Linked DNA regions of Homo sapiens. The protein of the gene in region 1 purifies or fractionates together with the protein of each later gene. This does not show direct contact. Each region holds a gene or a part of one and is shown on either strand. Other genes may lie near its edges. The genes, in order: TRMU, TARS2, IQGAP3, CPS1, WDTC1, MTPAP and PEX6.

What was found.
Region 2: the proteins of TRMU (region 1) and TARS2 purify together in Homo sapiens (affinity purification with mass spectrometry; one large-scale study listed by BioGRID and IntAct). This does not show direct contact.
Region 3: the proteins of TRMU (region 1) and IQGAP3 purify together in Homo sapiens (affinity purification with mass spectrometry; one large-scale study listed by BioGRID and IntAct). This does not show direct contact.
Region 4: the proteins of TRMU (region 1) and CPS1 purify together in Homo sapiens (affinity purification with mass spectrometry; one large-scale study listed by BioGRID and IntAct). This does not show direct contact.
Region 5: the proteins of TRMU (region 1) and WDTC1 purify together in Homo sapiens (affinity purification with mass spectrometry; one large-scale study listed by BioGRID and IntAct). This does not show direct contact.
Region 6: the proteins of TRMU (region 1) and MTPAP purify together in Homo sapiens (affinity purification with mass spectrometry; one large-scale study listed by BioGRID and IntAct). This does not show direct contact.
Region 7: the proteins of TRMU (region 1) and PEX6 purify together in Homo sapiens (affinity purification with mass spectrometry; one large-scale study listed by BioGRID and IntAct). This does not show direct contact.

The regions. Positions count from the first base shown.
Region 1 is NC_000022.11:46,338,214-46,342,873, reverse strand, and holds part of TRMU (mitochondrial tRNA-specific 2-thiouridylase 1), read right to left. Parts: intron 1-4,660. UniProt on the Homo sapiens protein: Catalyzes the 2-thiolation of uridine at the wobble position (U34) of mitochondrial tRNA(Lys), tRNA(Glu) and tRNA(Gln).
Region 2 is NC_000001.11:150,500,335-150,504,994, reverse strand, and holds part of TARS2 (threonine--tRNA ligase, mitochondrial), read right to left. Parts: intron 661-4,660; coding exon 560-660; intron 364-559; coding exon 262-363; intron 90-261; coding exon 17-89; intron 1-16. UniProt on the Homo sapiens protein: Catalyzes the attachment of threonine to tRNA(Thr) in a two-step reaction: threonine is first activated by ATP to form Thr-AMP and then transferred to the acceptor end of tRNA(Thr). Also edits incorrectly charged tRNA(Thr) via its editing domain.
Region 3 is NC_000001.11:156,524,905-156,527,565, reverse strand, and holds the end of IQGAP3 (ras GTPase-activating-like protein IQGAP3), read left to right. Parts: intron 1-966; coding exon 967-1,080; 3' UTR 1,081-2,161; downstream 2,162-2,661.
Region 4 is NC_000002.12:210,605,099-210,609,758, forward strand, and holds part of CPS1 (carbamoyl-phosphate synthase [ammonia], mitochondrial isoform b precursor), read left to right. Parts: intron 1-3; coding exon 4-148; intron 149-1,632; coding exon 1,633-1,843; intron 1,844-3,262; coding exon 3,263-3,461; intron 3,462-4,660. UniProt on the Homo sapiens protein: Involved in the urea cycle of ureotelic animals where the enzyme plays an important role in removing excess ammonia from the cell.
Region 5 is NC_000001.11:27,296,601-27,301,260, forward strand, and holds part of WDTC1 (WD and tetratricopeptide repeats protein 1), read left to right. Parts: intron 1-447; coding exon 448-556; intron 557-1,337; coding exon 1,338-1,511; intron 1,512-4,625; coding exon 4,626-4,660. UniProt on the Homo sapiens protein: May function as a substrate receptor for CUL4-DDB1 E3 ubiquitin-protein ligase complex.
Region 6 is NC_000010.11:30,338,783-30,343,442, forward strand, and holds part of MTPAP (poly(A) RNA polymerase, mitochondrial precursor), read right to left. Parts: intron 2,859-4,660; coding exon 2,686-2,858; intron 1,669-2,685; coding exon 1,444-1,668; intron 1-1,443. UniProt on the Homo sapiens protein: Polymerase that creates the 3' poly(A) tail of mitochondrial transcripts. Can use all four nucleotides, but has higher activity with ATP and UTP (in vitro). Plays a role in replication-dependent histone mRNA degradation.
Region 7 is NC_000006.12:42,972,058-42,976,717, forward strand, and holds part of PEX6 (peroxisome biogenesis factor 6), read right to left. Parts: intron 2,982-4,660; coding exon 2,818-2,981; intron 2,030-2,817; coding exon 1,946-2,029; intron 1-1,945. UniProt on the Homo sapiens protein: Component of the PEX1-PEX6 AAA ATPase complex, a protein dislocase complex that mediates the ATP-dependent extraction of the PEX5 receptor from peroxisomal membranes, an essential step for PEX5 recycling.

The DNA.
Region 1 (4,660 bases):
AGATTCTCCCACCTCAGCCTTCCGAATAGCTGTGATTACAGGTGCGCAGCACCATGCCCAGATAATTTTTGTATTTTTAGTAGAGACGGGGTTTCACCATGTTGGCCAGGCTGGTCTCCAACTCCTGGCCTCAAGTGATCTGCCCGCCTCAGCCTCCCAAAATGCTGGAATTAGAGGCGTGAGCCACCGCACCTGGCCCACTGCAACCTTTTCTTTTTTTATAGAGATGAGGTCTTGCCATGTTGCCCATGCTGATACTGAACTCCAGGCCTCAAGCAAGTCTCCTGCCTCAGCCTCCTAAAGTGCTAGGATTACAAGCGTCTACCTTTCTGACTGTGGGTCTTAAGACCCTCCCCAGACACAGTCCCACTGTATATCCTGGGGGAAGGAATGGCGATGTCATGAAGCCTCCATAAAAACCCAGGAGTACTGGGTTCAGAGAGCTTCTGCACAGCTACACTTGTGGAGGCTCCTGGAGGGTGGTCCCCAGGGAGGGTGTGGACACTCCATGACCCTTTCCCCATACCTCACCCAACCCGTCTCTTCATCTGTATCCTTTGCAACATCCTTTATAATAAACTGGTAAATGTGTTTTTCTGAGTTCTGTGAACCACTCCAGCAAATTATTAATAATTGAACCCAAAGAGGAAGTTATGGGAATCCCAACTGGAAGCCAGTTGGTCATAAGTTCTAGAGGCCCATACTTTCGACTGCTGTTGTGGGGGGAGTCCGTCTGGGGGACTGAACCCCCAACCTTTGGGATCCAGCACTATCTCCAAGTAGATGGTATCGGAACTGAATCAGAGGACACCCAGTCGGTGTCCACTGCTTGCTGTATGGGGAAAACCCCCCACACCTTTGTCACAGAAGCCTTCTTCCGTGAGGATGACTGCCGTGATGAGAACAGAGGAGAAACACAGTCAGAGGCTTCCCTACACAAGGGCTCCATGAGCCATTCTGCAATCTCAGCCTGGAATGCTGCGTCACTGGGCAAATATACCAAAAATACTATCCTCAGGTGACAAACACACACTTCTGAGAACTAGCAAACTCTTGGGTGCTTAAAGTGGATCAGGCTATCCTAATTCAGTGAACTTCTGCTCTAACAGACTGACTGAACATGGGAAAAAGATGCCATGATACCAGCAAAACTTACCAAGAATTTCATAGTCTTCGAGGATTCACTTCAAGAGGGTTATGATGCCTATTTTGGGAGTTTAAAAATGGGTGTATTTTTGGTATAAGTGATTTTTTTCATTTAACCTAAAACTCTCTATTAATCAACAAGGGTTAAAAAAAAAACCAGTGCTGATCAAGAGGTTTGTGTTTTGCAGACATATCACAGATCTGCACAGGGTCAGAGGTTCCTTGGATATCTTCCACTTTAGCAGGCACCAAACTGTTTTCCTACTTCTCAGTCCCCCTAGAAGTTCATAAAAACTCATGTTTTTCCACATTTGCAACAACACTTGATATTATTACACTCTTTCCATTTTGCTTTAATTATTAGAAAGTTACCAGGAAGCTCATTAAACTATAAACTACTTAAGGTGCAATCTGTGTCTGTGTCCTAGACCCAACAAACTTTCTATATCACAGTCATCAATAAATGTTGAAGAGGCTGAACATTAAAATCAGTTTCTGAAAAGACACACTGTTAACCCTTTCGTAAACAGCAGATGGGAAGGCGTGTGTTTTGGCATTAGCAAAAACAATGGAGTAGCCCAGCCTCTTCTCTAACTGGAAAGAAGAGAAGCCTTTCATGTGCCTCGGGAGGGAGACAGATTTAAAAGACTCAGCAGCTAAAACGTATCTGGACTCTGATCCTTGAAGGCCAGTGGGTCTTGAATGAAAGAATGCAAAAGAAATCTCTGAGCTAGAGAGCCCTACTAGAGAAGTGAGTCTTCAGCGGAAAGACCAATGCCTCCACGGGCAGCTGGTACTGGGCGAGGGCAGAGGGCAGGCTGGCTGGAGCCAGGGGCGACCTCGGGGGCAGCCCCAGAGATGGGAAAAGACTCTACCCGGCCGCCTCCTTCTCTCAGTCCCTATCAAGCAGCGCCAGAAGGCGGCAGCAAGCACTGGCCTGGAAAGCTGGGTTTTAATCCCAGCTCCGCTCCTAATTCTGGGGTTTAATCCCAGCTCCGCTCCTAATTCTGGGGTTTAATCCCAGCTCCGCTCCTAATTCTGGGGTTTAATCCCAGCTCCGCTCCTAATTCTGGGGTTTAATCCCAGCTCCGCTCCTAATTCTGGGGTTTAATCCCAGCTCCGCTCCTAATTCTGGGGTTTAATCCCAGCTCCGCTCCTAATTCTGGGTTTTAATCCCAGCTCCGCTCCTAATTCTGGGGTTTAATCCCAGCTCCGCTCCTAATTTGCCATACTATTCAAGTCACTCTTCCTATCTGGCCTCAGCTGAGCTAAACTTCAAAAATCGCATCCACTCGTACGTTCTGAAAAAGCTGTGCTGGCAGGTGAAGTGTAAGCTCACTTGGATTCCCTGTTGTCCCCTCAAACTCTACAGTACTCATGAGGAATCCCCTAAACCAGCTTTCCCCAGCCACCCAGCCTTGATCTTGAAACTACTGCTGACTCCTCTCCTCTCTGGTCTCCCACACACATCAGTCCCTAAGCCGCATCACACCTTTTCTCAAAGAAAGACCCTGACAACCCCCCACACCACCAGCACAGCTGAAGTGCTTATTAAAGCAGATTCCAGGGCCGCCCCCAGACCTCGGTCCAGGTCTGTGTTTAACAAGCACCTCAGATCTACTGCCCGGTGGACTTGTCCTCTGGGTCCAACAAGCCAGCCCTCACCTTCCACTCCCACACTCCCTCCCCATGAAGTCCAAATCTCCAGCAACAGCACTTCCTGAGACTCTCTGCCTTTGGTCTTCCCCCAGATTTATCCTGTATTTGGCCGCCACACTCTTTTTTTTTTCTTATGTCCCCGAGAAAACTGCAGAAGTTTTTAATGCATTTATCATGCATTCTACAGATAAGTTTTTAATGCATTTATCATGCATTCTACAGGTAACTTTCCCCAGGAAAATTCAGCCATCAGTTTTGTCCATGTTGTTAATATATACGACACCCATATGTTATAGCATAGAGTCACAGAGGGTTCATATTCAAGCTCTTCCGTTGATTATTTAGGTGACCATAGTCAATTTACTTAATCTCTCTAAATTTCGTTTTATTGTTATTTCAATGGTTTTTTGGGCAACAGCTGGTATTTGGTCACATGGATAAGTTCTTCAGTGGTGACTTCTGAGATTTTGGTGTACCCGTCACCCAAGCAGTGGACATTGTACCCGATGTGTAGTCTTTTATCCCTCACCCCAGAGTCCATTATATCATTTTTATGCCTTTGCGTCCTCATAGCTTAGCTCCCCAGACTCATCTTTTTAATAATGAAAATAAAAATAGCAGGCTGGCGTGGTGGCTCACGCCTGTAATCCCAGCACTTTGGGAGGCTGAGACGAGTGGATCTTCTGAGGTCAGGAGTCTGAGACTAGCCCGGCCAACATGGCGAAACCCTGTCTCTACTAAAAATACAAAAATTATCCGGGCGTGGTGGTGCATGCCTATAATCCCAGCTACTTGGGAGGCTGAGGCATGAGAATCGCTTGAACCTGGGAGGCAGATGTTGCAGTGAGCCAAGATTGCGCCACTGCACTCCAGCCTGGGCAACAGAGCGAGGCTCTGTCTCAAAAAAAAATAGAAAAGAAAAACAGCTATGTTTATTGACTGCTTACTAATATACCAGGCATACATACTAGAACCTAATCTCAATTCTTTCATAACCCTGTGAGGCATCAGTGTTATCCTCATTTTAAAGATGAGAAAATTGGGGCTTAGAAAAGTCAAGTATCTCTTCTGGGTCTTTGTTGGCAGGAAAAAAAGAGAATTTTTTTCAATTAAAAAAACAAAGTCAAGTAAATTGCCCAAGGTCATATAATAAGCTACAGTCAGGACTCAACCCAAGGCTCTTCTGCCCCTAAAGCCCACTCAGGCAGGGGCAGCCTGTCCCGCGCACATGGCCTGCTGTGTCAGACGCCTTCGACAACTGCCCGACATTCATCACAGTCAGGGCTCACCAGAGGATGAGCCCTACACTCCTTCCACTGCAGGAACAAAAGTCCAGCCAAACTTTACAACGGTCCTGAAATACACAATCAGCATTTCTTCTCCCCTTCACGCTGCTCTCGTTACCCCATTTGGAGTCCCTTCTCTACAACTTTGTTTGCAACCCCTCCTCTCCGGTGAAGCCTTCTTGATTACTCCACACTGCAAGTTTCTCCCTCCTCTGGGTTCAGTGACTGATAGCATCACTGGTACTTCCTGCGTGCCACGCATCACTGTCACCTCTTGTGAAGATAATGTCCTCCCAACTAGACCGCAAACTCCTACAGAGCCAGGTCACAGTGAAGACATCTTAATGTTCCTAGATGTGGCACACGCCTAGCACACAGCACTTAATTATTGAGATTATATTGGATTTTAGAAAAGTTTTTGTTTGTTTCTTGTTTTCAGAGGCACAGGCCATGTATCACCTCTTTCTCAGAAATCCCCTAATCGCTGACCCACATAGCACACAGGCATTGGTGCTCACCTTCCAGGGGAGCCCTCAGCCTTAGCTCCCCTATCCTAACTGGGCAACAGA
Region 2 (4,660 bases), on another chromosome or scaffold:
TACCTCAACTCCTTACCTCTTTGGCGTATTCCTCTTGCTCACTCCCCACAGGGATGACCACCACCTGGAACGGGGACAGCCACAGTGGCCTGGTAGGGAAAGAACAGGTGATGGCAAATTAGTCACTCTGGCTCTGGCCAGAAGTGTGCTTGTATGGAGCAGACTTGAGAAGGAAAGAGGCTGGCATATGAAGGGGGACAGGATCTGGAGCATAACTATCCGGTTTGGGGCCAGAACAGAAATCCAGGTCAGAGGTCTCACCATTTCCCCCCGCAGCTTTCTGCCAGCACTCCCAACAGTCTTTCCACAGAACCGAGCACTGCTCGGTGAATGAGGACTGGACGCTCCAGGGCACCCGCCTGCCTTGAAAGGAAAAAGGGGGGGGTGGATGGAATGGTGGAAGTATCACGAATTGTGTACCCAAGATCACCTTCCAGTTTTTAAGAAATATTCAGCTCTGGCAGGAGAGGGTGTGGAGGGTTTAGTTTTTAGGGCCAAAGGCAGAAGGACTTATTCCATGCACTGTCAAGGGAAAAGAGGATAGGGCAAGGTTTTATACCCCTTATACTGGAGGTCAAATCTCAGGGGCAGTTGGAAGTCAAGCTGAATTGTCCCACACTGATGTGGCCGGCCCAGGGCATCGTGGAGGTGCACGTCAATCTACAGGAAACAGATGGGAAGGCACGAGATAAGCCAGAAGCACTATCCAGAACCACTATCCTCCATTACCTGTGCCATCCCACCCTTTAACCTACCCTCATCCCGGGCTACTACCTTCATCATGTCACCTAGCTCTATCATACGCTACCCCTCCAGTTCACTCTACTCAACTCACTCTGGCAGTAGTTCTCAGCAGCTCTCTCCATCTAATAATGGTGTTATAATATTACCTGATGTCCACACCCTGGCCTCTCAATTCCTTGAGCTCCTCATCTCAGAGATCTTCACCACCACCCATCTATGGCTACACCCTTTATCCTGTCATCTCCCCCAATGGCTGTACCTCTGAAACTGTCCATCAGACACCCTACTCTGATTACTGTCTCTTGGTCAGCCAGCTCTGAGAATTATTCCTTTTTTTTTTTTTTTTTTGAGACAGAGTCTCACTCTGTCACCCTGACAGGAGTGCAGTGGCACGATTTCAGCTCACTGCAGCCTCCGCCTCCCGGGTTCAAGCGACTCTCCTGCCTCAGCCTCCTGAGTAGCTGGGACTACAGGTACATGCCACCACGCCCAGCTAACATATATATATGTATGTGTGTGTATATGTGTGTGTGTGTGTGTGTATATATACACACACATATATATACACATATATACACACATATATACACACATATATACACACATATATACACACACATATATACACACACATATATATACACACATACACACACACACACACATATATATACACACACACACACACACACACACACACACACATATGTGTATTTTTTTTTTTCAGTAGGGATGGGGTTTCACCATGTTGGCAAGGCTGGTCTCAAACTCCTGATCTCAAGTGATCTGCCCACTTCGGCCTCCCAAAGTGCTGGGATTATGGGTGTGAGCCACCACACCCGGCCATGACAATTATTCCTATTAATGGCACTTCAACCCACCGGTTCTTTAACTCCTCTTTTTCTCTCCCATCCTCAGGCCCCTCCCACCTTTGTTTCTTATCCCATGAAGCTGTACCATTTTCCCTAGTTCCCTTTGTACCATTCATTGTTCTTCTGCACCTTAGCCTCCTACATCTTTGGCCCTGCAAGAGAACTGCTCAGTGCTGCCCAATATGTCACAAACCACACAGATGCAAATGCAGAGATTGATGCCACCATGGAAGTCAGTATTTCGAGATTCAGCTGGTCCCTGTCTGCTGCCAGCAATCCTTTGGATTGCCCTAATAAGCTCTATGCTCTGTTCTCCTCAGGGATGTTCCAGTTTTTTGCTCTCTCTTTTTATAGCAGTATCTGAGCCAGCAACTTATTAGACTGATTCAACATAATACACACTTTATGACTGTTATATCTGTAACCTTAAGCACATTGTTTAACCTCTCTCAATTTTTTTCTTAGTAATAAAGATATTTTATTTGCCTACTGTTATTGCTGAAATAAATCAGAAGACACACTTTCATTACTGTTAATATTTTAATTTACTAACTACTTAGTGAAGCAGGTAAATAAATACCATATGCTGGAATAAACACTTGGGACATAAAAATGAGAATACACATGTTACCTGAATAAAAGACCCCAACACAGTCAACAGCAACTTTGAGTACTCAAAAGATTTTAGCCAGGCAAGGCACATGGCCCACTCCTGTAATCCCAGCACTTTGGGAGGCCGAGGTAGGTGGACCACCTGAGGTCAGGAGTTCGAGACCAGCCTGGCCAACACGGTGAAATGCCGTCTACTAAAAAAGGGAATACAAAAATTAGCTGGTGTGGTAGCGGGTGCCTGTAATCCCAGCTACTGGGGAGGCTGAGGCAGGAGAATCGCTTGAACCCAGGAGGTGGAGGTTGTGGTGAGCCGAGATTGTGCCACTCCACTCCAGCCTGGCGACAGAGTAAAACTCCGCCTCAAAAAAAAAAAAAAAAAAATTAGCTGGGCGTGGTGGTGCACACCTGTCCCAGATACTCGGGAGGCTGAGGCAAGAGAATCGCTTGAACCTGGGAGGTGGAGGTTGCAGTGAGCCAAGATCCGCCAGTGCACTTCAGTCTGGCAACAGAGCAAGAGTCTGTCTCGGGGAAAAAAACAAAAACGAAAAAAACGCTGGGCAAGATGGCTCATGCCTGTAATAATCCCACCACTTTGGGAAGCCAAGGCGAGCAGATCACCTGAGGTTGGGAGTTCAAGACCAGCCTGGCCAACATGGTGAAATCCCATCTCTACTAAAAATACAAAAATTAGCCGGGCGTGGTGGTACATGCCTGTAATCCCAGCTACTCGGGAGGCTGGGGCAGGAGAATCGCTTGAACCTGGCAGGCAGAGGTTGCAGTGAGCCGAGATTGCGCCACTGCACTCCAACCTGGGCGACAGAGCAAAATTTGATCTCAAAAAAATATATAAAAATAAATAAATAAAACAAAACAAACAAAAAAAAGATTTTAGCTATATAACAGTTCTTGAGTAATTTCCTTTCTCTATCTTTTTATTTATTTATTTTATTGAGACAGGGTTTTGTTCTGTTACCCAAGCTGGAGTGTGGTGCCTTGATCATAGCTCATGCAGCCTCAAAATCCTGGGCTCAAGTGATCCTCCCACCTCAGCCTCTTGAGTAGCTGGGACTACAGGTGCCCACCATCACATCCAGCTAATTTTAAAATTTGTTTTAAATTTTTTGTAGAGACGGTCGGGCGCAGTGGCTCATGCCTGTAATCCCAGCACTTTGGTAGGCCAAGGCGGGCAGATCATGAGGTCAGCAGATCGAGACCATCCTGGCTAACACGGTGAAACCCCATATCTACTAAAAAAAAAAAAAAAGAAAAAAATTAGCCAGGCATGGTGATGGTGATGGGTGCCTGCCTATAGTCCCAGCTACTCGGGAGGCTGAGACAGGAGAATGGCGTGAATCCAGGAGGCGGAGCTTGCAGTGAGCCGAGATCGAGCCACTGCACTCCAGCCTGGGCAGCAGAGCGAGACATAGTCTCAATAAAAAAAAAAAAAAAAAAAAAAAAAAAAAATTTTTTTTTGTAGAGACGAGGTCTTATTATGATGCCCTGTTACTATGTTGCCCAGGCTGGTATCAAACTCCTGGATTCAAGTGATCATCTCAGCTCAGCCTCCCTAAGTGCTGGGATTACAAGAGGGGGCCACTGCACACAGCCTTTTCTTCATATCTTCAGCCCCCTCACTGACAACTCTCCTCTTCTCCACTCTCATTTCAGCAAATGATCCTGCCTCATGAAGAATTCAGATAATTGATACCATGGGATGGGAAGAGCCTCAACTTCCTGTTACCATGCCTACAAACTTCCTTGCATCTACCTTCAGCCTTTCCTTCCACCCTGGATACAATGGCAATGGTGATCCCTTCTATGAAGGCTTCTCAATCCTACCTTAAACCTCTCCAGGAACTTCCCTTTACAACAACTTCTCCCTCCAAATAGACTTCCTCTCATCATAGCATTTATTTTATTTTTCATTTTATTATTATTTTTCTGAGATGGAGCCTCACTCTGTCGCCCAGGCTGGAGTGCAGTGGTGCGACCTCGGCTCACTGCAACCTCCGCCTCCTGGGTTTACAGGTGCCTGTCACCACGCTGGGCTAATTTTTGTATTTTTAGTAGAGACAGGGTCTCAAACCCCTGACCTCAGGTGATCCACCTGCCTCAGCCTCCCAAAGTGCTGGGATTATAGGCGTGAGCCACCGCCCCCAGCCTGTTTTATTTTTACTTTTTGGGACGGAGTCTTGCTCTGTTGCCCAGGCTAGGGTGCAGTGGTGTGATCTTGGCTCACTGCAACTTCCCAGGTTCAGCGATTCTCCTGCCTCAGGCTACTGAGTAGTTGGGACTACAGGTGTGTCCTAACACCTCACCCGGCCAATTTTTATATTTTTAGTAGAGATGGGGTTTCGCCACGTTGGCCAGGCTGGTCTCGAACTCCTGACCTCAAGTGATCCACCCACGTCGGCCTCCCAAAGTGCTGGGAT
Region 3 (2,661 bases), on another chromosome or scaffold:
CCAGTGTTCAGGAAAGGAGTGAAGCAACGGTGTTTTTGGTTGTGGTTGTTGTTGTTGCTTTTTTGGGTTTTTGTTTGTTTGTTTTCTTGAGACGGAGCCTTACTCCGTCACCCAGGCTGGAGTGCAATGGCGCAATCTCAGCTCACTGCAACCTCTGCCTCCTGGGTTCAAGCGATTCTCCTGCCTCAGCTTCCTGAGTAGCTGGGATTACAGGCGTGCGCCACCACACCGGCTTTTTGTGTATTTTTAGTAGAGATGGGGTTTCACCATGTTGGTCAGGCTGGTCTTGAACTGCTGACCTTGTGATCCGCCCGCCTCAGCCTCCCAAAATGCTGGGATTTACAGGCATGAGTCACCATGCCCAGCCGAGCAGTAGTTTTTAATCCAAATCTTTTTGCTCTGATGTTTTACCTTTTGAGTAAGAAAAATGATTTTGGCCGGGTGCAGTGGCTCACGCCTGTAATCCCAGCACTTTGGGAGGCCGAGGCGGGCGGATCACGAGGTCAGCAGTTCAAGACCAGCCTGGCCAATATAGTGAAACCCTGTCTCTACTAAAAATACAAAAATTAGCCTGGCGTGGTGGCACCTGCCTGTAATCCCAGCTACTCAGGAGGCTGAAGCAGGAAAATCGCTTGAACCTGGGAGGCGGAGATTGCAGCGATCCGAGATCGCGCCACTGCACTGTAGCCTGGGAGACCGAGTGAGACTCCGTCTCAAAAAAATAAATAAATAAAATAAGAAAAACAATTTCAAGCCCTGGTTCTGCTTGAGTTGACATTTGATCAAGTCACTGTACCTCTCTTGCCTCAGTTTCCTCATTTGTGAAGTGGGATTTCAATGCCCTACTTCAGTGGCCAGTGCCACTGGTGACTGCAGAAGGCCCCATGATGTGAGTGTTTTGTACACCATCTGACTGGACCACATTCAGAAGCCCTTAAACTCCCCTCCCTGCCTCTTCCCTCCTAGGATCTCCTGCAGCTCCAGTATGAGGGTGTGGCTGTCATGAAACTCTTCAACAAGGCCAAAGTCAATGTCAACCTTCTCATCTTCCTCCTCAACAAGAAGTTTTTGCGGAAGTGACAGAGGCAAAGGGTGCTACCCAAGCCCCTCTTACCTCTCTGGATGCTTTCTTTAACACTAACTCACCACTGTGCTTCCCTGCAGACACCTAGAGCTCAGGACTGGGCAAGGCCCAGGGATTCTCACCCCTTCCCCAGCTGGGAGGAGCTTGCCTGCCTGGCCACAGACAGTGTATCTTCTAATTGGCTAAAGTGGGCCTTGCCCAGAGTCCAGCTGTGTGGCTTTTATCATGCATGACAAACCCCTGGCTTTCCTGCCAGATGGTAGGACATGGACCTTGACCTGGGAAAGCCATTACTCTTGTGTCTGCTACTGCCCTCCCACAGTCACCCCAATATTACAAGCACTGCCCCAGCGGCTTGATTTCCCCTCTGCCTTCCTTCTCTCTGCACTCCCACAAAGCCAGGGCCAGGCTCCCCATCCCTACCTCCCACTGCATCAGCAGTGGGTGTTCCTGCCCTTCCTGAGTCTAGGCAGCTCTGCTGCTGTGATCTGCACACCCTCCAACCTGGGCAGGGACTGGGGGGATGCAGTGTGTGTTAGTGCCCATGTGGCATTGTGGCACTGTTGCCCCCCATGGCGGCATGGGCAAGATGACCTTCCATTAGCTTCAAGTCTTGTTCTCTTGTCTGTGGTCTGTTTAATATGTGGGTCACTAGGGTATTTATTCTTTCTCCCATCCTTACACTCTGGATCATTGTGCAGACTTAATCAGGGTTTTAACGCTTTCATTTTTTTTTTTTTTTTTTTTTTTTTGAGCTCAAAGAGAGTTCTCATTTTCCCTATTCAAACTAATACCCATGCCGTGTTTTTTACCTTGGATTTAAAGTCACCTTAGGTTGGGGCAACAGATTCTCACTCATGTTTAAGATCTTGTTATTTCAGCTTCATAAGATCAAAGAGGAGTCTTTCCCTTTTCTCTTTTACCCTCAGGATTCTCATCCCTTACAGCTGACTCTTCCAGGCAATTTCCATAGATCTGCAGTCCTGCCTCTGCCACAGTCTCTCTGTTGTCCCCACATCTACCCAACTTCCTGTACTGTTGCCCTTCTGATGTTAATAAAAGCAGCTGTTACTCCCACATCTGTTGTTAACCCTTATTTCATTTTCTGTAGAGCCGGCCTTTAAGTTCTGGAACACAGCTCCCTGAGAGAACTGGGGAATCCTTCCTGCAGCCTCCCCCAGCCCTCTGCCTGCCTCCGGTGTGGTCCTACTCTGCCTGCCTGAGATCGTAAAAGCTTAATGAGATGTGGCATTTATTCTCTCTTCCTTCCCCCGGGGGACAGAGAGGAGGAAGGAATGCTTAGGTTTCTATTCTGTTTTTATCGGCCACTCTGAAGACTAAAGCTGAGAAGAGAAGCCACTCTAATTTCTACCCCACCCGTTTTACACACAGTTCCTGCAGGTTCTTTTCCTGAGCCTTGGGTGGTGATATCAAAGGTGCTTAAGCCATAACTCCTTAGGTATTGTAGATTCTACACTCTGATCAAAATCTCCTTTCTGAAGGGAAAGCTCCCTCCTTTCCTCCTTGCTTTCAGAAAGTAGGGAGGGAAGTCTGTTGGGGAGGGGACAGTAGAGACA
Region 4 (4,660 bases), on another chromosome or scaffold:
TAGGCCTTTGCTATGACCAACCAAATTCTGGTGGAGAAGTCAGTGACAGGTTGGAAAGAAATAGAATATGAAGTGGTTCGAGATGCTGATGACAATTGTGTCACTGTCTGTAACATGGAAAATGTTGATGCCATGGGTGTTCACACAGGTAGGCAAAGTATCTTCAAGAACTATAGTAATGCTTTCAGTTCATGTCTTTGATGGCCAAGGCAGTCTTTATAAAGTTGTTGCCTTTAAATTACTATTTCTAGTTGACAGACTAGTGATAACATTTTGGACAAGCATAGTATTTTACAGTATTGAAAATGTTCTCACATTTAATTTGATCTTCACACAAACCCTGTGAAGTAAGGCGGATATTACACTGAGTTAATTGAGGAAGAGCCAAAGGTAAGCAATATGGTAGAAATAAGATCCATAAAACTTAGTGTTGAGAAATAAGAAGGGAGGTTGAGACAGTTTAAAGCAGACTGAGCTGGTAATCACCCAGTAAATGAGAAAATAGGCACAATAATAGAAATAAGTTTTTCAGAAAAGTACACTAGTTAGATAAGAGGGCAAAGATGATAACTTAGGATTTAAAAGTGCTAAATTTGGGGTGTGAGCAGAGCTGTCAAAAAAGGGAGTTGAGAATGTGGAGATGGAATTTAAGAAATAAAATAGAAATAAATAAGTTGATACAAAGACACTGGAAACTGTTGGCATAAAAGGGGAAATTGAAGTTGTAGGCATAGACAAAGTATTCAAGGACATAGGTATAGAAAGAGGAGAGAATAGGGTTGAACTTTGAACTCTGGGAAACATTTAGATTTATAGGGCAGGGGAAAGAGGAAGTATTACTGTTGAAGATAGAAGGGGAGAATAAAGAGTTAAGAGGAAAATCAGGTAGTACTGTACCAACTAAGCCAATGCAAGAACTATTTTATAAAAGAGCTTTGTTTTTGGCAGTATCAAATGCTATGCAAGACCAAGACTGATTATTTAATTTGGCTCTTTTGGATGTCCAAGAGAACAATTTCATTGCAAAGTCAGTTCTGTGAGCTCTATTAAAAGGAATTACATGGTATCAAGTGGTAAGCAGAATTGGCAAACTTTCAAGAAGCTCATTCATGTAAAGAATGAGAGAGAAGCTTTGTATGGTTGTCTGGCAATGTTGGGAGAAGACTTCCGGAGGCAGTGAAGATCTGAGCGTGTTTGAAGGCAGAAGGGATGGAGACTAAGATTGCAGATATAAGGGGCTATGATGAGGGAAGTGAAGATGGAAAGGGATGAGATACAGAAAGCCAGCTGATGAGCCAGTCTGAGTGATAATATTCAATGAAAGGAAGAACTTCAGAAATAATTTGAGATGAAGAGCAGGGAAGTTGAAGTCAATCTAGTAAGTAGACGATTGAAGCCTTGATAGCTACTTACTAGATAGATGAACTTGGGAAAGGTTAGAGAGGTTTCTAAAAGTACTGTATCAGAGTAATATGGGCAAAACAGGAATTGGGGGAATACCTGATATCACATATATATCCCAACAAACCCTCAGACTGTTCTATGTCTTGCATCGTGCAAGTAGATGGTTAAGTCGCTGAAGTTGGTTATTTCAATATGCCACCAAGTAATGAGTGCTTCTTGGATATATAGGTGACTCAGTTGTTGTGGCTCCTGCCCAGACACTCTCCAATGCCGAGTTTCAGATGTTGAGACGTACTTCAATCAATGTTGTTCGCCACTTGGGCATTGTGGGTGAATGCAACATTCAGTTTGCCCTTCATCCTACCTCAATGGAATACTGCATCATTGAAGTGAATGCCAGACTGTCCCGAAGCTCTGCTCTGGCCTCAAAAGCCACTGGGTAAGACCAGAATAATTGACCATGGGTTTGCAGATTCTTTTCAGATAGAAATGAAAAATTGACAGATAGTGGAAGACTGTACTGCATTTACAAACTATGTTCCCTTTTTCTGTATGTTAGCTCCAAATCATTTATAGCACCCTGAGGACATGATTATTAATGAGCTTGTTGCCAGATTGAGGTAAATTATATTGCTAGCTGGCTTTGTTTGCAGGCTAATCTAAACGAATCAAAATCTAGGTGGCTAAAGCAGGCTGTGAAAAATCTGCTTCCTAATTGCACTTTGCAGATGTTGTTAAAAGTGCAGATTAATCCTTAATTTTAGTCTTCAGCTGTTTTCTTCAGGTGTATAGCCCTATAGCAAATAGTTGACAGAAAATATAGCTCACTTGACTCAAGCATGCAATACACATTACTTTTATTTTATCAAAACTCCACAAGACTGAACAGTGCGGAATTTTTTCACAAGTAACTGTTACAACCAAACAAATACATCTGCTGTCTATGTAACAGCCACTAGCAGGCATGATTGGAGGGAAAGGTAATCAAAACCTTTGGTTTCTAATAATATATTTAGCACCTTACACTTAAATTATGGCATTTAAATGAACACAATATTTACTTCTTTATATTTTTTTTACGTAGTTCCACAGCACTGCGTGGAGTGGTGAAAGGCATGTTGCCCTGTACAGGAGTCACAATTCTGCATTCTCACTTGGTTCTTCTGTTGACCGTGTGATTTTGAGCACATCACTCATTGTCTTTATCAGTTTCCTCATTTGTTAGGTGGAAGTTGTACTAAAGAACTCATTTTTAATTCTATAGTTCTATGAATTATTTTCTCAAACAGAATAACCCAAACTGACATTCTGGATGAAGATAGTCAAGTTCTCAAAGTGTTAGTTTTGTAAGGAGCCCAAAGTTCAAAGATAATTTGGAGACAGAGCAAGGACCCAAACTTGAAATGCCTACATTTTCTGACCATTATGTACTCTCTTGTACTAGCTAACTCCACTGTATTCTTAGGTACAGATATGTATATGTACAGATATGTATATATTTTCTCAAAAAATATTTTGCAGATTCTCATCTTAGTGGAGGTTAAATACAAATAAAGGTTAAACTTTATTTATCAATAAAGCTATCGATTTTGGGTTGAAGAGGTGAAGGTTGAGCGTTGTAGCAATGCATGTAGTGCACAGAGAGTAAATTCTCCTGTGACCTGTGCCTCTATACTTTGTATCATGACTCCTATTATTCCGCAAGTGGCTACTAAATATTGATGCAGAACAGAGAATCAAGTGTCTTATACCCTGAAGTAGAATAATACCAGAAATTTTAAGAAAGACCAATTTATGTTTTGGTCTGTTTTCAATAATTGCTCGAAGAAAAAAAAATAAATTTGTCTTCTTTTTATAGCTACCCATTGGCATTCATTGCTGCAAAGATTGCCCTAGGAATCCCACTTCCAGAAATTAAGAACGTCGTATCCGGGAAGACATCAGCCTGTTTTGAACCTAGCCTGGATTACATGGTCACCAAGATTCCCCGCTGGGATCTTGACCGTTTTCATGGAACATCTAGCCGAATTGGTAGCTCTATGAAAAGTGTAGGAGAGGTGAGTCCTTGGTTTATTACGCTTTTCTTCTTGTTCTCAGTTATTTTGTTAAATTTGTGACACCATTGACAGTGTTAAAGTTGCCTGGATACCATCAACACATGGACAGTGTTAAAGGTGCAATTGACAGTGTTAAAGTTGCCTGAATATTAGCATACTAATATGCTAACAGTCTCTATGTGATTGTTTACATATTACATATGTTACATGGCCATTTTGCTGGATTTGAAGGTCTTCCTATTCAAAAGGTGAGGCCATATATCTGGCTATATAGTATAGATACACATATGAAAACACATTCATATACATATAACTGAGTTGTAATATATTTTATAACCAAATCAAGAAAGTAATATAGAATATAATATATCAAAAAGACCACTGAACTGAGCTTAAGAATTCAACTTTAGTCCATTCATGCAAATTGTGGCTCTAACTTCCTGAGACCTCATTCCCCACATCTATAAAAGAAGAGGCTGGACTAGTTCATCTCTCAGGATCCTTCCAGCTCTAAAATTCTAAATTGATATGAGCATAGTAGATTATTAAGCCCTCTTTAATTATACTAAAAAGTTCTAAGCTTTTAACATCTTTAGAAGATTTTTTAGAATGTGCTGTTATACTATTTGAAATTAAAGTTAGCCTTTGATTATTGCATCTTCAAAGATGCAGTGTTCTTCTGTGTGAGAGGAAAGAAAGGAATTCATATCTCTGCTGAGATTCACTCCCTTGCCTCCTTCCACCAAGTCCTAATCATTTTCTGCATCCAGAAGGTTTGGGATAGTGGAGAAAACATGAAACTTGGAACCAGCTGGACTTGGATATTACTCTTGGCATTGCCACTTATTAGCTACAGACTCTCAGGCAAGACTGAGTTTCAGGATCCACACCTATAAAATAGAAATAATAATACCTACCTTGCAGGATTCTTATAATACCCCCTCTTAATAAATGTAATCCATCATTATTGTTATTATTAAATTAGTATTCATAAATGTTGCATGGGGTAGATGAGTGCTGAAGTATGAACAAATCTCAGTCTTTCTCTATCATTTGTCTATCTACCATTTATCTTAGTTTATCTGTATCTCATCTCTATTTCTGTTGTGGCCAGTGTGGGAGCTTTTAGTCTATGTATCTAAGTTGATTAGAGTACAGAGCAAAAGGCTGTTTATGACATATTTTTCCATATTGTTCTT
Region 5 (4,660 bases), on another chromosome or scaffold:
TTTTTGCTTCCCTCTGAAAAGACAGGTTCCTTCCATGGCTTGGCTCTTGAGAACCTGAAATAGTTCCCCTCTCCTTTGTATCCTGGCCCAGTCTTCTCATTGATTTCTTCCTGGGGCCTACAGTTGATTTAGGCACCTCCTCACTCCATTCCCACCCCCAGCCCCAGCCCTAGCCCCAGCCCCAACCCTAGCCCCAGCCCCAGCCCTAGCCCCAGCCCCAGCCCCAGCTGAGTAATGCCACGGTGAAGTTGTGTCCCTCGCCAGCCAGCAGAGGGCGCACGGGCTTTTCTTTATGTCAGAACTTGCTTTCTGGGAATGGATCTTACTCTGGGAGAACAGTCCCACGATGGAACCATCAGACCCCGTGATGGAAGCTAGAGGGCTGCCAGGAAGAAATGGGTCCTCTTCCTGAGTTGTTGCTGTCACTTTCTCACTATCTCCTGCCAGAAGTCCAGAATGGCAAGATGTCCACCAACGGTGTGTCCAACGGTGTGTCCAATGGCCTGCACCTTCATAGCAATGGCTTCCGGCTGCCGGAGAGTAGGGGACATGTCAGGTGAGGCCAGCTGGCTTGTCCAGCCCTCCAAGCCCCAGTTACACTATATGGACTGGAGGGAGGGACATAACCTGTAAATCTTCCTCCTGACCCACACCCACTCATGCATCCCAGAGAGTGAGGACCAAGGCAAAGAGCCTTCTTGGAGGGTGCCTAGTGTTTCCAGTGCCCCTCTGCCTGGCAGAACACTAGTCATGGTCAGACTGTAGCTCTAGCCTGTTGGTACCAGTAACTGGGGTCAGGACTCAGGAGCTAGCTGCCTCTTAGCACTGAGCTGTCTCCAAAAAGGGGCTGCATACAAATGGGCCTCCGCATTATATTATTCCCCATCCTATAGCATATCCTTGCCTCTTTTCTCTGCCAGCCTCTGTGCTGGGCTTTGGATACAGAGGCGCTCAAATTCCCTAGCCTTGAGAGAAATAGAGTTCTCTAGACAGCGATCCACAGGAGGGACTCGGGTGGTCATAAGGTTCAGCTCAGCATGGAGGCAGGTGGTATCAGCTACTACCATGCCCAGGAGTTGAAGTACAGCTTCATTTCTGCCCTTCTTTTCACTGGCTGAGAGTATTTGGAATGGTATTTGGAATGAAATTCCAAATGGTATTCCCTATCACAGTAATAGGTAATATCCCAGACCAGGGTAGTGGTCCCCTCTTCCAGATAGCAGTCAGATCCCAGGGGCCAAGAAAATCTGGGTGGCCCTCAGGCCATGTTACAGACTCCCTGAGGGGCTGCTCTGACCTTCTTTGACTGTTCTGACTTGGCTCTATTTCCCCTGCAGCCCCCAAGTAGAGCTACCACCATACCTGGAGCGTGTGAAACAGCAAGCCAATGAGGCTTTTGCCTGCCAGCAGTGGACCCAAGCCATTCAGCTTTACAGCAAGGCTGTGCAGAGGGCCCCTCACAATGCCATGCTTTATGGAAACCGAGCAGCAGCCTACATGAAGCGCAAGTGGTGAGTGGCCACTGCAGAGGGGATCTGGGTCAGGATGAGGGAGAAAGCAGCTGGACCAAAAGGCAGGGGCCTGATGGAGCCAAGTTGCCAAGGCATCCAGGGAAAGTGGCAAGAACATATTGCTGCCTCTTAGGGCTTCTTGGCCTCTCCTCCCCACCTCCAGGCTAATGGTGGGCAGGCACCTGACCCATTAATCAGGAAGTCTCAAGCACTAAGGAAGCTCACAGTTACGTGGAACATGTTCAAAACTAGTTTCTACATGGCATATTATTATAAAGTGCTGTGGCCCCTGGGGAAGTATGAGTTGAGGACTGTTAGTCCCAACTGTTGGAGAATTGGACTTTGAAGAGCAGTGGAATCTTGCTAAGTGGAAATGAGGGGTTTGGTGAATTCAGTTGGTATGTGTCTAAAATATTCTGCAGTCCCTTGCCCCTCTAAGGCTTGCTTTCTGTGTTCTTAGACCCTTTGGACTGAGTACAAACCATATCCCAGAGATCCAAAGCTGGCTATGGGTCACGCTAGGGTATGGTGGCTGGTAATAAAGAAGTAGACCATATCTGAAAGAACTCCTCATCTTTGGAGACCATCAGGGCCCCCAGCCCTACTGCCTGCAGCACCAGCAGGCAAGCAGACATGCAGACCCCGCCCCCCCATCCCCCAGCCAGGGCCAGGACTAGAGATGGATAGAGCTGGGCCCACAGCCATTTCTGCTCCGTCTGGCATCCGTCGGCTCTGCCCAGACAGACAGGCCAGCTGGTGTGCCATCGTCTGGCTGCAACTCGGCAGGCCAGAGAGGGAAACTTAAGAAACCCACCCAAGTCAGCAGGATGGTAATGCTAGGTGGGGGTGGGGAAGATGCTGTCCCCCGGCCTTAGCTAAGGCATCAGGAGTTGGCCAAGGGCTCAGGTGGTAGCCAAACCCAGGAGATGACTGTTTTGGATGAATCGTGAGTTGATTCACCTCTCTGTCCAACAAACAGTTGGGTAGAACTCAGTGGTCCTCATCCAGGCTGTAGGCTAAGAGCTCAGCTTCACTCCTGCATTCTTGCTAAGAGAGGTTGGTGATTTCCTAATCCATATGTGCCCTCAGCATGTTCTCTGAGCTCCTACTATGTGCTAGGTACTAGGAACACAAAGTTCTATCACTCTGAGTTCCTGTGCTCCAGAGGAGCCTCTCCAGACAGTGGGTAAAGTGGTGGACATAGTTCAGCATTAAAGAGATAGGAAGCAGTGAGTCTTGTGAATGGTCAGGTAAAGGGCTGTGGGCATCAAGAAAAGTTGGGTCGCTTTAGCTGGGGAGCAGGGAAGCATCAGAAAGACATGGCGTCTGAATGGGCTTTAAGTGTAGGCAGGCTTAGACAGGAGATGAAGGAGAGGAGGGGCCTGTGGGGGAAGGACATTCCAGGGAGATGAAATGGTGTGAACAAAGGCATGGGGGTGGGGGACTGACTGAAGAGCTTGTTTGCAGAACAGCAAATCCATTTGGCTGGAGCAGAGGGTTCGGAAAGGGACTGGCAGGAGATGAGTCTGTGAGGTAGCCTGGGGCCGGCCTAGGGAGAGCTTGGAATGCAGAGCGGTGACGTTGGCCTCGATTCAGTGCATGATGGGCAGCTACTGGAGAGTTCTGAGCAGGAGAGGGATGTGCCGAGGGCTGTCCTTTCAGGGAGATTGATCTGGCAGTGAGTCTAGGAAGGGTGAGCCCTGGGGCCAGCCTGCTCTCTACCCCCATCCCCACATGCCTGCCAGTGACCCCTAGAATGTCACATTCTGTCCTGGGCCAGTCTCCCCAGGGCTGCCATCTGCTCCTGGATGCAGTGGGAGCTGTCACCCTCTGGCTCCTGGCTGGTCTCTGGTCTGGCTCTCCCCAGGAGCTCAGAGGGGCACCTTGCAGGCAGTAATTGGGTTTCCAAACAGTGCCTGCTCCTTCGTCAGAGCCACTCATCCTGACGCAGGCCACGCCATTGAAGCAGCTCTGTTTCCTGCCTGCCCCCACATGGGCTGAGCTGCTGGTTCCTGGTCTGAGCGTGGCTGTTCCGAGGACTGGGTGCTCCCTCTGAGTGCTGCAGAAGGAGGCTCAGGAAGAACCTTCCCATGTCAGGCCTGCCTTAGCCATGCCGGATTGTTGTGAGCTGTGCCCTTGGAGAAGGGGCCATTAACTCTAAGGGGTGCCTCTTACTGCTGCTTGGCACAGTTGGGTCCTAGGCCTACTCCAGCCCAGCTGAAAAAAAAAAATGGCTTCTGAAGAAGCAGTTCCTGTGGCCTGTCTGGCTCTCCAGACAAGAGGCAAGGACAGGTCTGTGGGTGCTGGGGGAGTATGCTTCCTATATTCTGGCACAGGGTGGGAAAAGGAGGGGCTTCTCTGACCTCCTTTCACTTCCTCTTTCCCCGCTTCCCCATCAAAAGCACTCCCACTTCCCTTCATCCATGCTTCAGGAGGTTGGAGAAGTGAGTGGGGACGATTTGGAGCTCCTGGTGTGCACAACCCCCCTTACCATCAGCTTCCAGAGAGCTGACTCTGCCAGACTGTCAGGCCCCATCCTCCAGCCCCAGGAGGTAGAGGCCACAGCTGCTGTGGATCAGTCAGCCAGGACAGGGGGGGGTCTGGCTGAGGGCTTGCTGCCTGCTGGTCAGACCCTGCGTCCCCAGCCTGACACTTCTGGCTTCCCCAGACCACAGAACTGTCCTTGAGGGCCCCCTGCCTTGGATGTGGCTTTGAAGGCCAGCCGGGGGTGATTTGAGAAGGTGGATGGGGGAAGAGAGAAGGAGGGCTTGGGGAGCCTGTGGTGGGCAAGATGCCAGGCCTTCTGCTGCAGAGCTGCGGGTGCCTGGGGTGAGCCAGTGTGCAGTTGCACTCTGTGCCCAGCAGAGGGCAGCCTGACACCAGCTTTTGCCACCCTCAAGACCTCAGGGTTTCCTGGCTTGCTCCTTAACCATACTCTGTCTCCTGATGGGGGAGGCCTGGGCTGAGCCAGGATTCTCTTCGTCCTCAAGTCCCCTTGCCATGAGATCTGTCAGTGGTGGGCTGGGGTGGCCACAGGAAGCAGAGGAGACTGAATGGGGACCCCTTGCTTGCCACGTGGCTCCACCTCCAAGCCGCTCTTCCCTGCCTTCCCAGGGATGGTGACCACTATGATGCCCTGAGGGACTGCC
Region 6 (4,660 bases), on another chromosome or scaffold:
GTTGATTCTTTGGAAAGACTAGCAAGGTCTGGCAAGTCTGAGTAAGAAACACCAAGACAGGCCAGGTGCAGTGGCTCACGCCTATAATCCCAGCACTTTGGGAGGCCAAGGCGGGCGGATCACAAGGTCAGGAGATCGAGACCATCCTGGCTAACTCAGTGAAACCCCGTCTCTAATAAAAATACAAAAAATTAGCCGGGCATGGTGGTGGGCGCCTGTAGTCCCAGCTACTTGAGAGGCTGAGGCAAGAGAATGGCGTGAACCCAGGAGGTGGAGCTTGAAGTGAGCTGAGATCACGCCACTGCACTCCAGCCTGGGCGACAGAGCAAGAGTCCGTCTCAAAACAAAAACAAAAACAAACAAACAAAAAAACACCAAGACAAATACAAACAATATTTGAACACAGAAGAGACAGAATCTTGGGCCGGGCGTAGTGGCTCACACCTATAATCCCAGCAGTTTGGGAGGCCGAAGTGGGCACATCACCTGAGGTCAGGAGTTCGAGACCAGCCTGGCCAAAGTGGCGAAACTCCGTCACTACTAAAAATACAAAAGTTAGCTGGGTGTGGTGGTGCACACCTGTAGTCCCAGCTACTTGGGCAGCTGAGGCATGAGAATTGCTTGAATCGGGGAGCAGTTGCAGTAAGCCAAGATCATGCCACTGCACTCCAGCCTGGGCAAGAGCGAGACTCCATCTCAAAAAAAAAAAAAAAAAAAGAGAGAGAGAATCAGAAAGAAGACATTTTAAAATTGACAGAAAACCATGTACAATTTTATGTCATTATGCTGGAAAGAGAAAGAAAACCTAAACTGTTCAAAAGGCCGAAAACTTCAGAAGAATGTGGTTACCTGTAAGTACAAATGGGGCATGGCGGGGAAGGAGCAGACAAGGATTACTATCACTTTTCATTCAACATATCCTGTAGTTTGAATTTTTAAAAGCAATCCCATTTATTTATAGAGATATTAAAATTGTAATAAAAATATTAGCACGACAAATGTAATAATGCATTTTTGTAAATACACCTTGACTAAGTAGGGTTTATTCTGTGAATGCAAGAATGACTTGACATGAGGAAATCTACAGTGAATCTACAATTCACTACGTTAAGACATTAGGAGGGGAAAGAAAAAGACATTAGGAACCATATACAATCTCAAGACCATATGCCAGTCATCAATACCATCTCAAATGTCAAAACTCAACATCTACTCAATGTGTTGAGCATGACGACATTCTTAGAAAGCTAGAAATAGAAAAAAACTTTCCTTCATCTCATTATGCATCCACCACCACGATTCATCTCCGTAACTCTTTTCACCTTGTAAAACTGAAGATCTATACCCATTAAACAATAATGTAGCTTGAACATTTTACAGGAATCTTTATTGTTCATAAAAAAATACATAGTTCTAAAAGTTGAGGTACACCTAAAAACTTACACTTTCTGCATAACAAAGTAATTCAAAAAGCTGCTTGTTTGAACGTGGCAACTGATTACTTGACCGTACGCGTGACCGTTCAGAAGTCTGGTTTTTCAACTTCAGATTGAAGAAACGTGATCTGAATGGAATTGCAGTCTCCATGGCCGTGCTTGGAGTATGAGTCCCATTCTGCAGTGAACCTATGCTTTCCTTTTGGCAAAATTCTACGACAGCATAGAGACCCTATACCAAAAACATAAGAAAAAACAGAACACATTTCACGATATATCTAACATACTATTTTAGCTCATATATTAAAACAATTATCATAATGCTACAAAATATCAAGTCTTTAAAATTTACAAATGATATGATTCTAACATAGCATTAATTTTATTCAATTTAAGTAGATGAAGAAAAGGAACACTGGGCCGGGCGCAGTGGCTCACGCTTGTAATCCCAGCACTTTGGGACATGGAGGTGGGCAGATCACCTGAGGTCAAGAGTTCAAGACCAGCCTGGCCAACATGGTGAAACCTCGCCTCTACTAAAAATACAAAAATTAGCCAGGCGTGGTGGCAGGTGTCTGTAAGTCCAGCTACTTGGAAGGCTGAGGCAGGAGAATCGCTTGAACCCAAGAGACGGAGGTTGCAATGACCCAAGATCATGCCACTGCACTCCAGCCTGGGCAACAGAGTGAGACTCCATGTCAAAAAAAAAGAAACGGAACCTTAAAACAATGTTAGTTAAGAGAAGCTGAAAAGACTGAAAAGAATGATGAAGCAGAAAAATCCAAAGGCAAAACAAAGATCCCCTCCCACTGGCCTTCATCCGCAAGTTAAAGAGACTATCTAAAGTATTCAAGCTGGGTGTGGTGGTGCAGGACTGTAGTCCCAGCTACTCCAGAGGCAGAAGGATCACCCGAGCCTAGGAGTCGAGGCTGTAGTGCAATATGATCGTACCTGCCAACAGCCACTGCACTCCAGCATAGGCCACATAGTTGGACCCCGTCTCTTAAAAAATAAAATTAAGCATTCAAATAATGAAATCAGTCATAAATGACTTATAATCCTAAAATACCGCTATAAGAATCCCATATCAAAAACAAAACTCATTAAAGAAATCTAGATAAAGAAGATGCAGTATATCAAAGAGAACCTACCTACCATATTGCAAAAAGCAACAGCAAAAAACAACTAATGGAGACCTCCACCCTTGAAAAGCATAAACGTTAAGTTAGATTGTTTTTCAAATACTTACAAAGCTTTCATAGAAGAAATGATTATTAATAGGTCCAAATTGGGATAAATATTTAAGAAACTTGTTTTCACTGATTTTCTCTGGGCAATGTATTAAAACAGTCCGCTGTGCCTGTTCTCGTCTTTCATTTTGCATCTCAGAGAATCTCCTTTTGGGAATCTTGTCTTCAAAGCCTATGAACGAGACAAAAACATTTCCACCACACGCACACACACAAAATTTTAAAAATATTTTGATAAGGTGTTTAAAGACTTCATATATGACTAAAACCAACTTCACCTAATCTATTTTTTCTCTTCCTTTATAAGGGTTAAACTATACTACAGTAGTCTCCCCATTACCCACAGGGGTTATGATCCAAGATGCCTGTAAATGCTTAAAACCTCAGATATTACCAAGCCCTATATATACAATGTTTTATCCTACACATACATTGCTATGATAAGGCTTAATTTATAAATTAGGCACAGTAAGAGATTAATAACAACGGGCCGGGCTTGGTGGCTCATGCCTGTAATACCAGAACTTTGGGAGGCTGAGGTGGGTGGATCACCTGAGGCCAGGAGTTCGAGATCAGCCTGACCATGGTGAAACCTCATCTGTACTAAAAATACAAAAATTAGCCAGGCATGGTGGCGCGCGCCTGTAGTCCCAGCTACTTGGGAGGCTGAAACAGGAGAATCACTTGAAACCAGGTGGCAGACGTTGCAGTGAGCTGAGATTGCACCACTGCACTCCATCCTGGGCAACAGAGCGAGACTCTGTCTCAAAAAAAAGAGACAGAGATTAACAACAACTAATAATGAAATAGAACAATTCTAATATACTGTAATAAAAGTTATATGAATGTGGTCTCTCTCTCTCTCAAAATATCATATTGTACTGTGCTCACCTATTTGTGGACCACAGTTGACTGTGAGGAACCGAAACTGTGGACAGTGAAAACATGGATGAGGTGGAATTACTGCACTTTCAGTGTTCGTTTGACTACTCTCCCATGACTACTATTAAAACTGCCCACTTTCTCTGTTTTGATTTACTATGCTTGATGCAAAGTGCTGAAAACGGAGTTCCACAAAAAAAAAAAAAAAAACCAGGAAACTAAAATCACTTATTTAATACTTGTACAAATATGCACACACAAAATTGTGCAAATTGTAACATTCCAAAGCCTAAAAGAAATTATTACAAGCCTGAGTGTAATGAGACAATGAGTTTGGAAATTCGGTGTTTTGACATAAGCTATTAAGGCATTTTTCTTTCTCAAGGGTCTTGATCTGGCTCAAACAATTAACAGTGAGTTACCAACTATCATGCGCTCTGTATCAGGGAAATCAAAGAATTTAAAACCTCGTTACTGCCCATGAAGAGCTCCCTGATAATTTTACTAAGGAAAGAAAGAGGCTAGGAGTTTTACAATCACAGGGAATCAAGACAAGAATTGTGACAGTGAAGAATTAAATATTAATAACCCACTAGCCACAATGGGAAGGTCAACAAATGAACTAAGTATAGAGAGAAAAAAATTATTCAAGTTCTAAGAGAGTATTAAAGCACAAACCTGAATGTTAACAACTAATTTTTTTCCCCCAAGATTTTAACTTCCAGTTAAGTAGTTTAAGGTGTTTCTTTAAAAAGTCTGGAATGGTAGACTCTAGAGATCATAAACCACCAAGTCTGATATCAATACCCTTAACAAGGCCAGACGCGGTGGCTCACACCTGTAATCCCAGCACTTTGGGAGACGGAGGTGGGCGGATCACCTGAGGCCAGGAGTTTGAGACCAGCCTGCCCAAATTAGCCAGGCGTGGTGTCGTGTGTCTGCAGTCCCGGTTACTTGGGAGGCTGAGGTAGGAGAATCACTTCAACCCAGGAGGTTGCAGTGATCCGAGATTGCACCATTGCACTCCAGCCTGAGTGACAGAGGGAGACTGTCTCAAAAAAAAAAAAAAAATCTTAAAATTCCAAAGAAATT
Region 7 (4,660 bases), on another chromosome or scaffold:
GGTACTGAGCACTGGCCAGAACCAAGCACTGGATATTGACCAGGGATGAACATCAGGCACTCCAAACAAGGACTGTCTCTCCTGGCAGAGGACCCAGGCTGGCTATGCCACAGACCTTGGACATGAAGGCTCTTATGTATGAGTTAGTGCATCTATCAGCTGTGCTCTCCTTCTAGTAAACTGCTGCAGGAAATGAGTCCAGAATACAGGGAATGCTGGGATACAGAGCTATACATTTTCCTCCCTACACATAAGGCTAAAGCAGTGTCTCAATTCTTTGCCTCACCATTTTACATGGAACCTCTGTGGTCAGAGTCAACAAGAGGAGAAAAGCTGGATTCCTTATTTTGGGTTCTTGGCTCGGTTATGCTCTATTTCTCATTCTCTGTTGATAGGACAGGGTAGCCCTCTCAAAAACAATAGAAATCCCTGGCTGGGTGCGGTGGCTCACGCCTGTAATCCCAGCACTTTGGGAGGCCGAGGCGGGCGGATCACAAGGTCAGGAGATCGAGACCATCCTGGTTAACACGGTGAAACCCAATCTCTACTAAAAATACAAAAAATTAGCCGGGCGTGGTGGTGGGCACCTGTAGTCCCAGCTACTTGGGAGGCTGAGGCAGGAGAATGGCATGAACCCGGGAGGCGGAGCTTGCAGTGAGCCAAGATTGCGCCACTGCACTCCAGCCTGGGCAACAAAGCAAGACTCTGTCTCAAAAAAAAAAAAAAAAAAAGAGAAATCCCTCTCCTGTTTTCAGAGATAGGATTGAGAAGTAGTTTGTGCACACTCCGTAGTTAAGGCAGAAATCAGAGCCTGTATATCCTTACGTTGAGATATGGATGGTATGGCCCAAGTCTTGGTCCAAATAACACGAAGGCTAAGAACGGAAAGGAAGGAATCCCGTCTTGGTCTAGGCCATTAAACTCTTCTTTAAAAAGAAAAGAATTTAAATTTTACCTATTTATTTATTTTTTGAGATGGAGTCTTGCTGTGTCACCCAGGCTGGAGAGCAGTGATGCGATCTGGGCTCACTGCAACCTCTGCCTCCCAGGTCCAAGTGATTCTCCCGCCTCAGCCTCCTGAGTAGCTGGGATTACAGATGCCCACCATCACACCCGGCTAATTTTTGTATTTTTAGTAGAGACAGGGTTTCACCATATTGGCCAGGCTGGTCTTGAATTCCTGACCTCAAGTGATCTGCCTGCCTCAGCCTCCCAAAGTGCTGGGATTACAGTCGTGAGCCACCACACCTGGCCTAAACTCTTCTTAGTGCTTTGCTTTACATAGGGCCACCAGTCAGTTTGAGGATAAACACCTCCCAAAGCCAGCAGGGAGTGGTTCTTTTAGTTTGCTTGTTTTTTGAGACAGTGTCTAGCTATATTGCCCAGCCTCCTGAGTAGCTGGGATTATAAGTATGCACTACCATGCCTGACTGGTTCTTAACCTTTCTTCAGTCATACACTTGTTTGGGAACTGAAGGACAGGTGAATTTTCTCTCCAAAAAAATGTACACAGGCTGGGGGTGAGTGGTGCACACCTGTAATCTCAGCACTTTGGGAGGCCAAGGCAGGCAGATCACTTGAGCTCAAGAGTTCGAGCCCAGCCTGGTCAACATGGCGAAACCCTATCTCTACTAAAAATACAAAAACCAATAGCTGGGCGTGGTGATGCGAACCTGTAGTCCCAGCTACTGGGGCAGAGGCAGTGCTGAGGTGGGAGGATCACTTGAGCCATGGAGGTAGAGGCTGCAGTGAGCTGTGTTTGCACCACTAAACTCCAGCCTGGGTAACAGAGCAAGAACCTGTTACACACACACACGCACACACAAAATACATGACAACGAAATCCTCTTGGGCACAAATTACACATGATTTGCAGGGAGGGGATTGTAGAACTCATGCACCCAGGTTACAAATCCCAGCTGTAGGACAGAAGGCAGCTGCATACCTGGGCAGTTTCTCTGGACTTCCTTCCAGGATCTCTACTTGCCCAATTGTTGGCACACATAGAACATCCCCTTCCTGGACTACCCTGCAACACAGCAGTGGCCCTGGTCAGGTCACAATGGGAGTAATGAGCATGTGTTCATTACCACATGTCCACCCCCGACATGCAGACTACTTCTTGAGTCTACTGCCCGCCCAGAGATCCCACGCAGTTCTCCAAGGAACAAGTCAGTCTTAGGATGAGCTAGGGGAAATGGTGGAGAGACTAGAAAGGGGGATCAGAGACAGATGAGTGGCAGAGCAGGATCCTGGCTCTTTTGGAGCCCTCTTTAATCACAGGTGTCTCTGTTTGGAATGTCCAAATTAACCTCATGGTTCAGATTTCTCTTCTGTGGTCTCCCTGATATACCAAGAGGCGCCTACCACAATCTGTCTGAAATGTTTTTTTTGTTTTTTTTTTTTTTTTTTTTTTTTGAGACGGAGTCTCGCTCTGTCGCCCAGGCTAGAGTGCAGTGGTGCGATCTCGGCTCACTGCAAGCTCCACCTCCCGGGTTCACGCCATTCTCCTGCCTCAGCCTCCCAAGTAGCTGGGACTACAGGCGCCCACCACCACACTCGGCTAATTTTTTTTTTGTATTTTTAGTAGAGACGGGGTTTCACCATGTTAGCCAGGATGCTCTCAATCTCCTGACCTCATGATCCGCCCACCTCGGCCTCCCAAAGTGCTGGGATTACAGACGTGAGCCACAGCACCTAGCCGCAAATGTGGCTTCTTTTAACCAGGGCCTCTGGGGTACTTGGTTCTAAGGCATGGGATAGGAGGAATGTAATGAGGGTGAGAAGCTATCCTCCTTAAAAGGTTAGGTAGCTAACCTGGGTATCTGAAAGTGCCGGTAAAGAACACCGTCATAATTTCCATTAGTGCTGTAGTGGGGAGAAGACACAATTTCGATGTGTAACTCTCTGGCAAATGGAGGCCCAGGCAGCAATGAGCAGCTTCCTTTGTCTTCAGGGGCGATGGAGCCTTCCAAGTACCTCTATTAGAGAAATAACCACCACGTTATAACCTTCTCCTAAGGGGGCAGGCTCTAACCTGTCTCTCAGCAGCCAACATGTCTATTTCCATCCTGTCTTTCCCATAACCACAAGGCTTGTGGAAGGTGGGGCCTGAGGTAGCAGACCTGAAAACCTCTCCCTCTAATGGGTACCAGGAAGAGAATATCACCTCCTATCCCGACTCTGGCTCCAAAAAATTTTCTCAGTAAAGATAACCTTTCTGTGACACTTTCAACTTGGCCCAGAGCCAGTGAAATGGTAAAGACATTTATTCCCACAAGACCTATTAGTGACACCAGGCATCCACAGGGATTAACATTAAGTGGTCATTAGTGGGGAAACTGAATTCAGGCTGTGGGAAAAGCTGAACGGGTTGGTTCAGTCATTGGTTGGTTCAATGAGCTCTACTCTTGAGTACCCCAGTAGTTTTTCCTCCATTCAGGAGGAAACCTACATCCACTCCCTTTCACATGTATTTCACATGTATCTCTACCTGACATCCCAAAGTATTAACTGGTTACTCTAGTACTGCCCAGTAGAACTCTCTACAATGGAATAGTCTATATCTGCATGTGCTATTGAGCACTTGAAATGTGGCTAAAAACAAAACAAAAACAAAGAAATGTAGCTAAAGCAACTAAAAAACATGATTTAGTTTTTTTTTTTTTTTTGAGACTTAGTCTCACTTTGTCGCCCATGATGAAGTGCAGTGGCACAGTCTCGGCTCATTGCAACCTCTTCCTCCTGGGTTCAAATGATTCTCTTTGTGCCTCAGCCTCCTGAGTAGCTGGGACTATAGGCATGTGCACCACCATGCCTGGCTAATTTTTGTGGGTTTTATTTTTTTCTTGAGATGGAGTCTCGCTTGTCACCCAGGCTGGAGTGCAGTGGCACCATCTCGGCTCACTGCAAGCTCCGCCTCCTGGGTTCAAGGGATTCTCCTGCCTCAGCCTCCAGAGTAGCTGGGACGACAGGCATGTGCCACCACACCTAATTTTTTTTTTTTTTGTATTTTTAGTAGAGACGGGGTTTCACCGTGTTAGCCAGGATGGTCTCAATCTCCTGACCTTGTGATCTGCCTGCCTTGGCCTCCCAAAGTGCTGGGATTTAATTTTTGTATTTTTTAAAATAGAGATGGGGTTTCGCCATGTTAGCCAGGCTTACTTTATTTAGTTTTAACTAAATTTAAAAATTTAAAAAGCCACAAAGTGGCTGGTGGCTTCCATATTGGACAGCACCATCTAAACCATATATCTAGGTCCTTAATTAAACACTATACTGTATTTGTCCCCCTAAACACAACTTTCATTTTTTTCTTTTTTTGAGACAGAATCTTGCTCTGTCACCCAGGTTGGAGTGCAGTGGTGTGATCTGGGTTCACTGCAACTGCCACCTCCCAGGTTCAAGCGATTCTCCTGCTTCAGCCTCCCCAGTTGTTGGGTTTACTGGTGTGCACCACCATACTGGGCTGATTTTTGTATTTTTAGTAGAGATGAGGTTTCACCATGTAGGCCAGGCTGGTCTCGAACTCCTGACCTCAAGTGATCTGCCTGGCTCAGCCTCCCAAAGTGCTGGGATTACAGGCATGAGCCACTGCGCCTGGCCTTTTTTTTTTTTACACAATGAAGGTTTATTTTTTTGTCACTCTTATGTCTGTTAT